Homo sapiens: one gene and its partner. The protein of the gene in region 2 purifies or fractionates together with the protein of the main gene of each other region. This does not show direct contact. Each region holds a gene or a part of one and is shown on either strand. Other genes may lie near its edges.

Region 1 (5,298 bases), on a different chromosome or scaffold from region 2:
TTGTATGTCACTTCCTGCCCCCCCACTCAAGTCCATTCATGAACTTTATTATAAGAACCCCTAAAAAGTAAGAGATGTGAAGTTACTCTCTAAGGGTATCTAGGTGTCTTGAGGCAGTATTGAATGTTTCTGAAAATCGAGCTGGGCATGTAAGTCTGACTGGACTTGTATATGTGGGTGACCCTAATACATTTTTGCCAAAAGGGTTTTAACAAAAGTTAATAGGTTGTTAGAATTGTTGAAATGCTAAATTGTCTAGTCTGTGAAAGTATATCACATTGCATGCCCTCTCCTATATATGGTAACTTAACTTTGGTTTTCCATTCTGAAAGTGGAACAGGCTTGGAAGTAAACAAAAATAAATTGCATAGGCTCTTGGCATTAAACTTTATTGCTTTTCTTGCAGTGAGATCTTGAATCTTGTAATTAAACCATAATGTGTTGTGTGTGTATAAATATATGAATATATATAAAAAATCCAAATAAAATGAGTATGTGTGTGTGTGTGTGTGTGTATATATATATATATATATATATATATATATATATTTTTTTTTTTTTTTTTTTTTTTTTTTTTTTTGAGATGGAGTTTCACTCTGCCACCCAGGCTGGAGTGCAGTGGTGCAATCTCGGCCCACTGCAAGCTCCACCTCCCGGGTTCACGCCATTCTCCTGCCTAAGCCTCCCGAGTAGCTGGGACTACAGCCGCCCACCATCACGCCCAGCTAATTTTTTGTATTTTTAGTAGAGACGGGGTTACACCGTGTTAACCAGGATGGTCTCGATCTCTTTACCTCGTGATCTGCCCGCCTTGGCCTCCCAAAGTGCTGGGATTACAGGTGTGATCACGCCACCGTGCCCGGCCAAAGCTTTGTGTTTCTATTCAAGAAAATTTATTTGTATAAATTGAAGCTGTCCTGTCATTAGGACAGCTTCAGTTTCTCTAGTTGAATAAGTATTGTACCTAAAGAAAAGCTTTGGCAATTCAAAAGGACTCTCATTTAGGTTACTCCAGCAGTTTTTAAACTCGGTGTGGTGAAAAACATTCTTTTTCCTGGTCTTCCTTTGGATGATCAGTATGACTGTTAGTATATTTGATTTGACATTTGCTAAAAATACATTATAGAGATTCAGACTTCTTACCTAGTTGTCATCAGTGAATGAGTTCTATATTGGGCCTTTCTCTTCCTCATGTTTAGTGTTTCATAAAAATGTGTCCATATTACTCATTTCTTTCTTAAATAGTAATATTATGTGGAATTAGTACACTCAGCCTTACTCTCTCTTTTTTTTTTTTTTTTAAGAGATAGGATCTTGCTCTGTTGCCCAGGATGGAGTGCAGTGGTGTGACCATAGCTCACTGCAGCCTTGAACTCCTGGGCTCAAGCAATCCTTCTGCCTCAGCCTCCGGGTGTAGCTCGGGGTACAGATGCATGCCACCATGTCTAGCTAATTTTTTAATTTTTTGTAGAGATGGGATCTTGCTCTGTTGACCAGGCTAGTCTCGAACTCCTGGCCTCAAGTGATTCTCCCATCTGCCCCACAAAGTGTTGGGATTATAGGTGTGAGCCACCATGCCTGGTCATCCTTACTCTCTTGTTGGACACTTGAGCTGTTTCTCCATTATAAGTAGTGCAAAGAGAGGACTGTAATTTAGTGGTTTATTTTATCAACCTGTATAATTACAGTAAACTTTAACCAATTTTTTAATTTTTAAATTTATATTTAAATTTTTTTTTTTTTAGAGACAGGGCCTTACTATGTTGCCCAGGCATGGTGGCTCACACCTGTAATCACAGCACTTTGGAAGGCCGAGGCAGGAGGATCACTTGAGGCCAGGAGTTCAAGACCAGCCTGGTCAGCATAGTGAGACCCCATCTCTCTACAAAAAAAATTTTTTTTTAATTAAGGGGGCATGAGGTTGCATGCATCTGTAGTCTAACTACTTGGGAGGCTGAGGTGGGAGGGTCGCTTGAGCCCAAGAGTTGGAAGCTGCAGTGAGCTATGATAGCACCATTGCACTCTAGCCTGGGTGAGAGTGCAAGACCCTGTCTCTAAAAAAAAAAAAAAAAAAAAGAAAAGAAAAAAAAATTATTTACAATATGGCCAGTAGACTGTAGGAAAATCAAGAATGATGAGAAATGTTTCATAGGAGAAGTAGGACATAAAAATTACATGATATAGCACCATGTGGCTAACATTTTACTAGATATTAAATCTGTAGCACTGAATGGAAATGCATATCTAGATTCACATCCTCTACAACCATGAATTCATTTTTCCCTGTTCTAGTATACATGGTCTTATTTTGTCTCTCTTTACCTCAACTTGAGAAATTTGGATCTGGCATTAGAGTAAACAGATAATTGAAGACTAGAAAGAGGTAGACTGGGTGGAAATAAAAGTGGAATTTTGACAGAATAGCCTTGGGAGGGATGAAGCTGAGTATACCTGGGCCTCAGAGCAATAATCCATTTTTTAGGAGGAAAGGGACTGCTAAAGCCAGCTTTTGAGTATTCTACTCTGACCTGAGTGGCCTTGGTCTGAATAGCTCATGTTCAGAGATAAGAGTATATTTAACTTTTTTGTACTAAGAATAGTATTTGAGTAATGTTATAGGTACATATGAGAATTTGGCCTTCATCTCTGCCGAGTCAGTTAAACACAAGTTTCTCTAGATATTTCCATTACAAGAATCAAAGCTCTTTGATTTTTGGAACTTCAGTAAAACCCAAGAATGAATAGCCGAGAACTATCATACAAGTCATAAAATTAAAAGGCATTGAACAGTGTATGAAGCATCAGATATCCTGTTACATGTGTCTGCAACAATAAATTAAATATTGATTAACTGATTTTAAGTAGGCTCAAGACTTCTCTTACAGTTCTAATCTTATATTAACTAGATTTGCATATCTAATTTCTCCAAAAATATGATCAAGAAATGTTTATTTTAGTCTAGGCGTGGTGGCTCACATCTGTAATCCCAGTGCTTTGGGAGGCTGAGGTGGGAAGATCTCTGGAGCCCAGGAGTTCAAGGCTGCTGTGAGCTCTGATTGTTCCACTCCACTCCAGCCTGGGTGACAGAGCCAGACCCTGTCTCAAAAAAACAAAAAAAGTTGGTATTTCTAAAACCTACTGGTTGAATTTAGGACCTCAAAATGTTACTTGTGTGTGTGACCTTTGTTCTTGCCCTATGGTTCTGACAACCTTCCTCCTTTTTATTTATTTATTTATTTATTTATTTATTTTTTTGGTAAACTCAGGCAACATATTCATAGTCAAAGGTTACATGAAGACATTCTCAAATTTACATGATTTCAAAATTTAGTTACTTCTTTTTTTTTTTTTTTTTTTTTTTTGAGATGGACTCTCACTCTGTCACCCAGGCTGGAGTGCAGTGGCGCAATCTCGGTTCACGGCAACCTCTGCCTCCTGGGTTCAAGCAATTCTCTGCCTCAGCCTCCCGAGTAGCTGGGATTACAGGCACCCGCCACCACGCCCGACTACTTTTTTGTATTTTTAGTAGAGACAGGGTGTCACCATCTTGGCCGGGCGGGTCTCGAACTCCTGACCGGGGGTGATCCATCAGCCTCGGCCTCCCAAAGTGCTGGGATTACAGGCATGAGCCACCGCACCTGGCCTGCAGTTACTTCCTTTAACCTCAAAGATATTTTGAAAATAGACCTCAATTTACTATGCCTGAATTTAAAAAACCTTAATATTGTATTTGAAAATAGTGAATAGTGACCATTGCCACCAAGTAGAGTGATAGTAATAAGTAAAACACTAATCTTTGATATAAGGGTGATTACTAATAAATTGAATAAACTGATATATTTTAACGACTTTATTGAGCAAAATTGACAGGACAAATTGCATATATTTACAGTGTACAATTTGATAAATTTGACAAAAATATCTACTTAAAAAAATATCAGTACAATCAAGATAAGGAACATATCCATCACCTTCAAGAGTATCCTCAAGGTCAGGCACAGTGGCTTAGGCCTGTAATCCCAACCCTTTGGGTGGCCGAGGCAGGAGGACTGCTTGAGCCCAGGAGTTCCAGACCAGCCTGGGCGACATAGAAAGACTTCATCTCTACACAAAATAAAATAACATTAGCTGGGTGTGATGGTGCCTGCCTGTAATCCTAGCTACTTGGGAGGCCGAGGCAGGAGGATTGCTTGAGCTGGGGAGGTTGAGTCTTCAATGAACTGTGATTGTGCTACTGTACTCCAGCCTGGTGACCGAAATGAGTCTCTGTCTCAAAAAAGAGTATACTTGGCCAGGCGCAGTGGCTCACACCTGTAATCCCAACACTCTGGGGGGCCGAGGCAGGAGGACTGCTTGAGCCCAGAAGTTCAAGACCAGCCTGCGCAACATGGTAAAACCCTGTCTCTACAAAAAAATTAAAAAGCCAGGTGTGGTGTTGTGTGCCTGCAGTCCCCGCTACTTGGGAGACTGAGGTGGGAGACTCACCCAAAGCCTGGAGATTAAGGCTGCGGTGAGCCAAGATCACGCTACTGCACTCTAGCCGGGGCATCGGCAGTATCCTTATGACTTTTTGTAATCCCTTCTTTTGCTCCTTACTACCCTCTCTGTATCCCTAGGAAACCATTGTTTCCTTTCTGTTGCTTAAGATTAGTTTTTATTTTCTAGAATTTTATAAAAATGGAATTGTATATACGCTTTTTTTTTTTTTTTTTAGCACGGGGAATCTCCTTACACTCAGCATAATTTGAGATTCATCCATGTTGTTATGTGTTCATAGTTTTTTATTGTTGAATAGTATTTTATTTTATGAATATACCATGATTTTTTTTAACCCATTTACCCTTTGATGGACATTTGGATTGTTTTCACTTTTTGACTATTATGAATAAAGCTGCTATGAGCATTCATGTACAAGTTGTTGGAGAGAGATATGCTTTCTTTTCTCTTATATTAATGCCTAGGAGTGCAATAGCTAGATGTGATAGGGAAATATTTTTTCCCAGTTGTTGGCTTGTCTTCATTCTTTAAACAGTGTGCTTCAAAGAGCAGTTTCTATTCACAGACAACATGTCTGTGACTCTTCAAAAAAGCTCTAGTGAATAGGTTAATTCAGCAGAGTTGTAGCTTAGAAGGTCAATATACAACAGTAAATTGTATTTCTATATACTAATAATGAACAATTAGAAACTAAAGTGAAAAATTCCCATCTCATTAGCACTAAAAACCATGAAATACTTAAGTATTAACTTTTCAAATGGTGTGTAATATTTGTATGTTGAAAATTATGAAACACTGATT
Region 2 (5,298 bases):
ACGGTTGCTACAACTATTTCAACCGGTATAGTTAGAGATGGCTCTTGTAGTCGGGTCCAAATGCTGTTCGGACTGCACCTTTCTACCCCTCCTTTGGTAAGGTCCACTGTCTGGGATTATATTCAGGACAAACGAAGCCTGGAAAGTGTATTAGGTAGAGAGGATTTTTTTTTCCACGTGTTTGGGCACGTTTCCGACGGCTGGGATTCCAGCCCTGTCTTTGTATGTTACAGATTGTAAATCAATCGCAGAGGGAAACTCTTCGGCGGGGGGAATAAAAGTTCTCTGCCTTCGAGGCTCTGTGGGCCCTCTCCTGCCACCAGGCTGTTTCCAGGGATAGCGTGGAAGGCGGCGGGCTCAGGCGGGCTTTCCGGTCATTAGCGCAGCGGGGGCAGGGCTGGAGCCTGCGGCGCAGCTGCGAGGAGCCGGGAGCAGGAGACTCTGGCCGGGTCACCCGGTAGTGCGCTAAGCTGGAGGCGCGCTCCTGGGCATTTGAGGAATACAGCGTGACTATACGTGGCCTGGACTCAGACTGACTATATTTTTGTACTACATTTACAAGCACACGCCCACAAAGCTGTCTTCTTGACTGACCCCTGCCTTAGTGCGCAATGGAATTAGCTGGGTGGCTTTAAAATAATTCTCAAATTCTCCATCCGGTATTAGGGTCGCTTGCTTAATTAGGCGGTAGAGCTCTCTCATCGCCGCATCTTTCCTGGGAGGGAGTGATTCCACAGCTTCTCCGGCCCAAACCTTCCAGTCGCTCCTCCTCCCAGAGGGAGTGTGATTCTGCATCCGAGAGGCTGATTTTGCGCCCTGGAGCATCCCACCTTTTATAACTTCCCCCGCCTGGGGTCAGCGGACCCAAAGGTGTGACGTGGGGAAATGCGCAGTCTGCGTGGACGTCAGGAATGTCAGACACCTAGAGCTCGGCCACACCCCTCCTCTCCATCTTTCCACGAGTTTGAGAAACTTACTGGCGGCGGCGTCTTTGACCCTCATCTGCATTTCAGAGCCCTCGCCTCCGAAAGTGCCCCTGGCTCAGGGGAGAGATCTCAATCCTCCTTTGTGAGGCTTGTTTGCATTGGGAGATTGGCAGCGATGGCTTCCAGATGGGGCTGAAACGCTGCCCGTATTTATTTAAACTGGTTCCTCGCGGAGACCTGTGAATCGGGCTCTGTGTGCGCTCGAGAAAAGCCCCATTCATGAGAGACGAGGTCCAGTGGGTTCTCTCGTACTCCCAGACCCCCTCTCCCACAATGCCCCCCTGTGCCCGCCCGCCGCCACCTCTCGGCTCCAGCCCTGCGCAGAGCGGCGGTGAAGCAAAACAGTTCCCCGAAAGAGGTAGCTTTTTAATTGGCTTGCCACAAAGAATCACTTATACGGCCCTGCGGTAATGAGGGGAACCGGATCAGGCGCGCCGGGATGCTATCGGCAGCCGTTTTGGAGCAGCAATTATGGTGGTGCTGGGCTCCTCCGTCCACACCTAGGGGATCCGGTTACGGCGCTGGCTCCTTTCTGGGGCAGTCATTTAATCCCACTTTTCACTCTCCCGGTGTCTGTGAGCGAGCCGTGTCCAGAGCCGCAGCCACAGAGTCACTCAGCGGCTCTTACACCCAGCGCAGCCTGGCCCCGCCCCTGCGCCGGCGCTTCCCGGGCCGCCCTTCCCCGGGAAATCTGATCCGCACGGGGAGTGGCCCCTCTCCTAGCATTTCCCCCTCTCCTCCCTGGGTCCTCATGGGCGAGGGTGGGCTCTCCTGTAGTCTGGGCTGGAGCGCATTAACCGATGCCCCCTCTCCCACACCTTCCTCACCGCCTGCATTCCACTGCTCCAGCTATTTTAACGGCGGGTGTGTCCCCGCAACTTCTGTATTTTCCCTGGAATCCCTCACCCTCCTGTGATTATCTTGCCCAAAGGCTAGGCGGATTTCTTCTAGTGGGAAAGTAAAAAGGAAAGTTTATCTTTGGATTTTCACTCTCTTTAAAGAGCAGTGGGCAGGCTCGTTTCTTTCTCGCCCTCTGGGTTTGTGGCTCTTTCCTATTATTCATCCCCTGCTGCTGCTATTGCCTTGGGGATTTTGATGAGAAAAACAGCGCTGGGCGCTCCCTAGCACGTGGTGCGGGCTCTACAGCCCTTGGCTGCTAAGGAGCGCTCTTGTCAGCACAGGTTTCATTTGCAGCATGAATTCCAGACGGCAGGGCGCTGGTGGAGGAGACTAGTCCCTGCTATTCTTCCTCTGCAGTCTTGGAGGAGGCCAGGCCTGGACTGGCCAATCTTAGCCCTAGCCAGGTATTCAACGACCCCTGCTCCCCAAACTGGGGTGCTGTTTTCAGATGGAGGCAGGGCCTCTCCAGGCAGGGCTACAGGTGGAGGTCAGCACTGGGGGCGCTTTGGCTCCACTGGCCTCCTAAGCAGTTTATTAGCCTGCCCAAGCCCCAAGTGTATTGTTTGAATGGGTCTATCCCCCTCCCCAAATTGGTCCTAATTCTAATATGGTTCAAAGAATGAGACAAGATCCTAATTCTAATAGCTCGTCTTTTCACCCCCCTTTCTTATATACCTATTTTTGGAGCCTCACTGCTTATAGATTCCAATTTTTGTAGGTAGAATTTTCTACATTCCCTCTGAATGTTAGTTGTCAGTTGTATTTAGCTAATCCCATAATTCCCAGAGGAAGGCAGAAGAAAGAAGACTTCTCTGCTCCTGGGCTGGTGGAAGGGAGGTCTCGCCATTTTTCTGTCTCCTTTCTTTTTATAGTCCCAGAATTCCTATTCAGAATATCTTGTCTCCTCCCTTCCGCTCACCCTCCAACTCCCTCCACCCACTCCATCACCTGGTCTCCCCCGTATTAGGTGGGTAAAGAGAATATAGTATAGTAACCCCCCACCTTCATTGCTGGGTCAAGATTTTCACTGGTGAATAGACAACATGGTGCAAGGTGCATAATAAATATTTGTTGAATACATGGAAAAATCAATGATGTTTTAGGAAAATAATTTTTAAGTTCTATATGTCCAGGTGGCCCCAGCCTACATTCTTCAGCATTTGAATTCTGTCAAGTTGACTGCAACCTCTCTCTTTTTCTCTCTGGCTCCCCACCCCCTCCTTCCCTTGGCTCTCTGCTTCTCCCTCCCCACCCTTGGTGCAGAGGAGGCTGGCAGCTGTGTGCAGGATGGGCAGAGGTATAATGATAAGGATGTGTGGAAGCCGGAGCCCTGCCGGATCTGTGTCTGTGACACTGGGACTGTCCTCTGCGACGACATAATCTGTGAAGACGTGAAAGACTGCCTCAGCCCTGAGATCCCCTTCGGAGAGTGCTGCCCCATCTGCCCAACTGACCTCGCCACTGCCAGTGGTTGTAATTTATTTATTTCCTGTTCAACATAAATAAATTACTTGCAAGCACTGCAAACACGCTCCCATAGATGCTGGTCGTCTCTGCAAAGCAGAGGGGCTAGTTATCCATGGGACCTGGTAGCTGGGGTAGAAAGGAAAGGCCACTTCTCACTTGCAGGTTGAAACTGAGTGAACGAGCCTGAGACACTAGAGGGGTCCTTCTTTGCCCAACATCTCCAAAAACATTTGCTTCCAAGACACATGAAGGACAGATGTGATTCTACAAAAAAAAAAAAAAAAAAATCCTCTCTGAAATCATCTCTGCAAATTACTAGAGCCACTATGGAGATCAAATGCTCTGTCTGGCCAATCCACGAATTAATTCCTCCTCTGCCACCGACACCTTGTCTTCTCCTTAGAAGACTTCTATGTATGTGGTCTTCAGTGTGGAGAAAGCTCTGCCAGCTAGTGGGGAGACTGCAGGGGCAGAGGCTCCCTCTTTGAGTTATGGAACATTGGTGGTAGTTTCCTCTCTGCTATTACCTCTCTTGGAGTTGACCATTAATTCAGAAGCAAAATAATAGGAGAGGGAAGGGCTAGGCTTTGGGAGTTCTCGTGGGGACGGGTGGAGACAGAGCCCCATGTATCTGCACTGTAGTGGGTGGTTATAAACTCCCAGTTAGATCCAGTGCTGGTGGATGATATATGTGCAGGTGACCCCTTCCCAGCATTCATACAGATGTCCTATCTCCCTGCAGAGTGAGTGGGGACGCTTGTGTAGGTTTTTTGGGTAGCTCTTGCTGTCCGCTTCCTGCTGAAGTAGAGAAGGCCGTGGCAAGGGAAGTGAGAAGCTGCCTTTCCTTAACACTTCACCAACACTGGCTCCCTAATGTGCAGATTCCCAGATCCTTTCTGAGGGGCCCGTGTGAGTGAAGTGTTGATTGCCTTTACTATTTTGCTGCTACTGTGAAGGAGAGGTTATTGACTGGGGATGGCACAGGCTATGATGCTCCGATGCTCTTCATAACTCATATGCCTTGCTGTTTTTGTGTTTTTATTTGTGCTTGCTTCAAGGAGACCCAGCTCTAATGTAAGACCTTTCTAAGTACCTAACTCTTCCTCTGGGAGGGCTTGGGGTTCGGGAACGGCTCCCTACCCTGTGGGGGGAAGAGAGACTGAATCTGTGCTTTCCTTCTTGTGGCTGATTAGATCTTGAGCTCTTCATTGCCTTTTTGTGCTGCCCTTGCTCCTTTCTTTTGCATGCTGCCTGCTTTTTGAATAACAAAGTCTGGGTCACCTCCATTCCTCATGGGACCTCAGCAACCCCAGGGCCACAGTGGCCCTAACACCCCAACAGAGGGGTTCAGTGGAGTCACAGGAAGCTGCCGCCTTCCTTGATTGTGTCCTTTTACTTGTTTGATCTAATGAGTGTTTGAGTGACAAGAATAGGTATTTTTCCATCTCAAGATTCTTACCTTCTTCTTCTCTATATTTTTTCCCTTGCAGGGCAACCAGGACCAAAGGTAAGGGCTTTCTTCTTTTTCTTTTTTCATATTTTTTTGGCTTTATATTTTCTGCTTCAAAAGCAATGCTATGTTAATCCAGTCTGTGATTTTTTAGACATCAGAAGATATCTGTTTCAGAGGGTACCTCAACACAGGGGCTGCTGGCAGGGTTTTAGACTAGGGGCTTAGTGGGCTTACTCGGCTTAATCCTGTGAATGTTTCATGTTTCAGGGACAGAAAGGAGAACCTGGAGACATCAAGGATGTAAGTGCAAATTATTCTCACCCGGTATTGCAGCTGCTGCTCTAAATGGGTCATTTCCTTGTGCTCTCCTCTAACTTACCATCCTGTGGGGCTCTCTCTCACAGATTGTAGGACCCAAAGGACCTCCTGGGCCTCAGGTAAGAGAGGGAGAAATCTCTTTCTCCGTCCCTTCCTCGCTGCGCGCAAGTTACT

The links. Proteins that work in one complex are often made in the same cells at the same time.
Region 1: the proteins of COL2A1 (region 2) and P4HA1 purify together in Homo sapiens (affinity purification with mass spectrometry; one large-scale study listed by BioGRID and IntAct). This does not show direct contact.

Annotation. Positions count from the first base shown.
Region 1 is NC_000010.11:73,089,125-73,094,422, reverse strand, and holds part of P4HA1 (prolyl 4-hydroxylase subunit alpha-1 isoform 2 precursor), read left to right. Parts: intron 1-5,298. UniProt on the Homo sapiens protein: Catalyzes the post-translational formation of 4-hydroxyproline in -Xaa-Pro-Gly- sequences in collagens and other proteins.
Region 2 is NC_000012.12:47,997,977-48,003,274, reverse strand, and holds part of COL2A1 (collagen alpha-1(II) chain isoform 1 precursor), read left to right. Parts: intron 1-1,721; exon of another isoform or gene 1,722-2,290; intron 2,291-3,149; coding exon 3,150-3,356; coding exon of another isoform or gene 3,357-3,359; intron 3,360-4,843; coding exon 4,844-4,860; intron 4,861-5,073; coding exon 5,074-5,106; intron 5,107-5,210; coding exon 5,211-5,243; intron 5,244-5,298. UniProt on the Homo sapiens protein: Type II collagen is specific for cartilaginous tissues. It is essential for the normal embryonic development of the skeleton, for linear growth and for the ability of cartilage to resist compressive forces.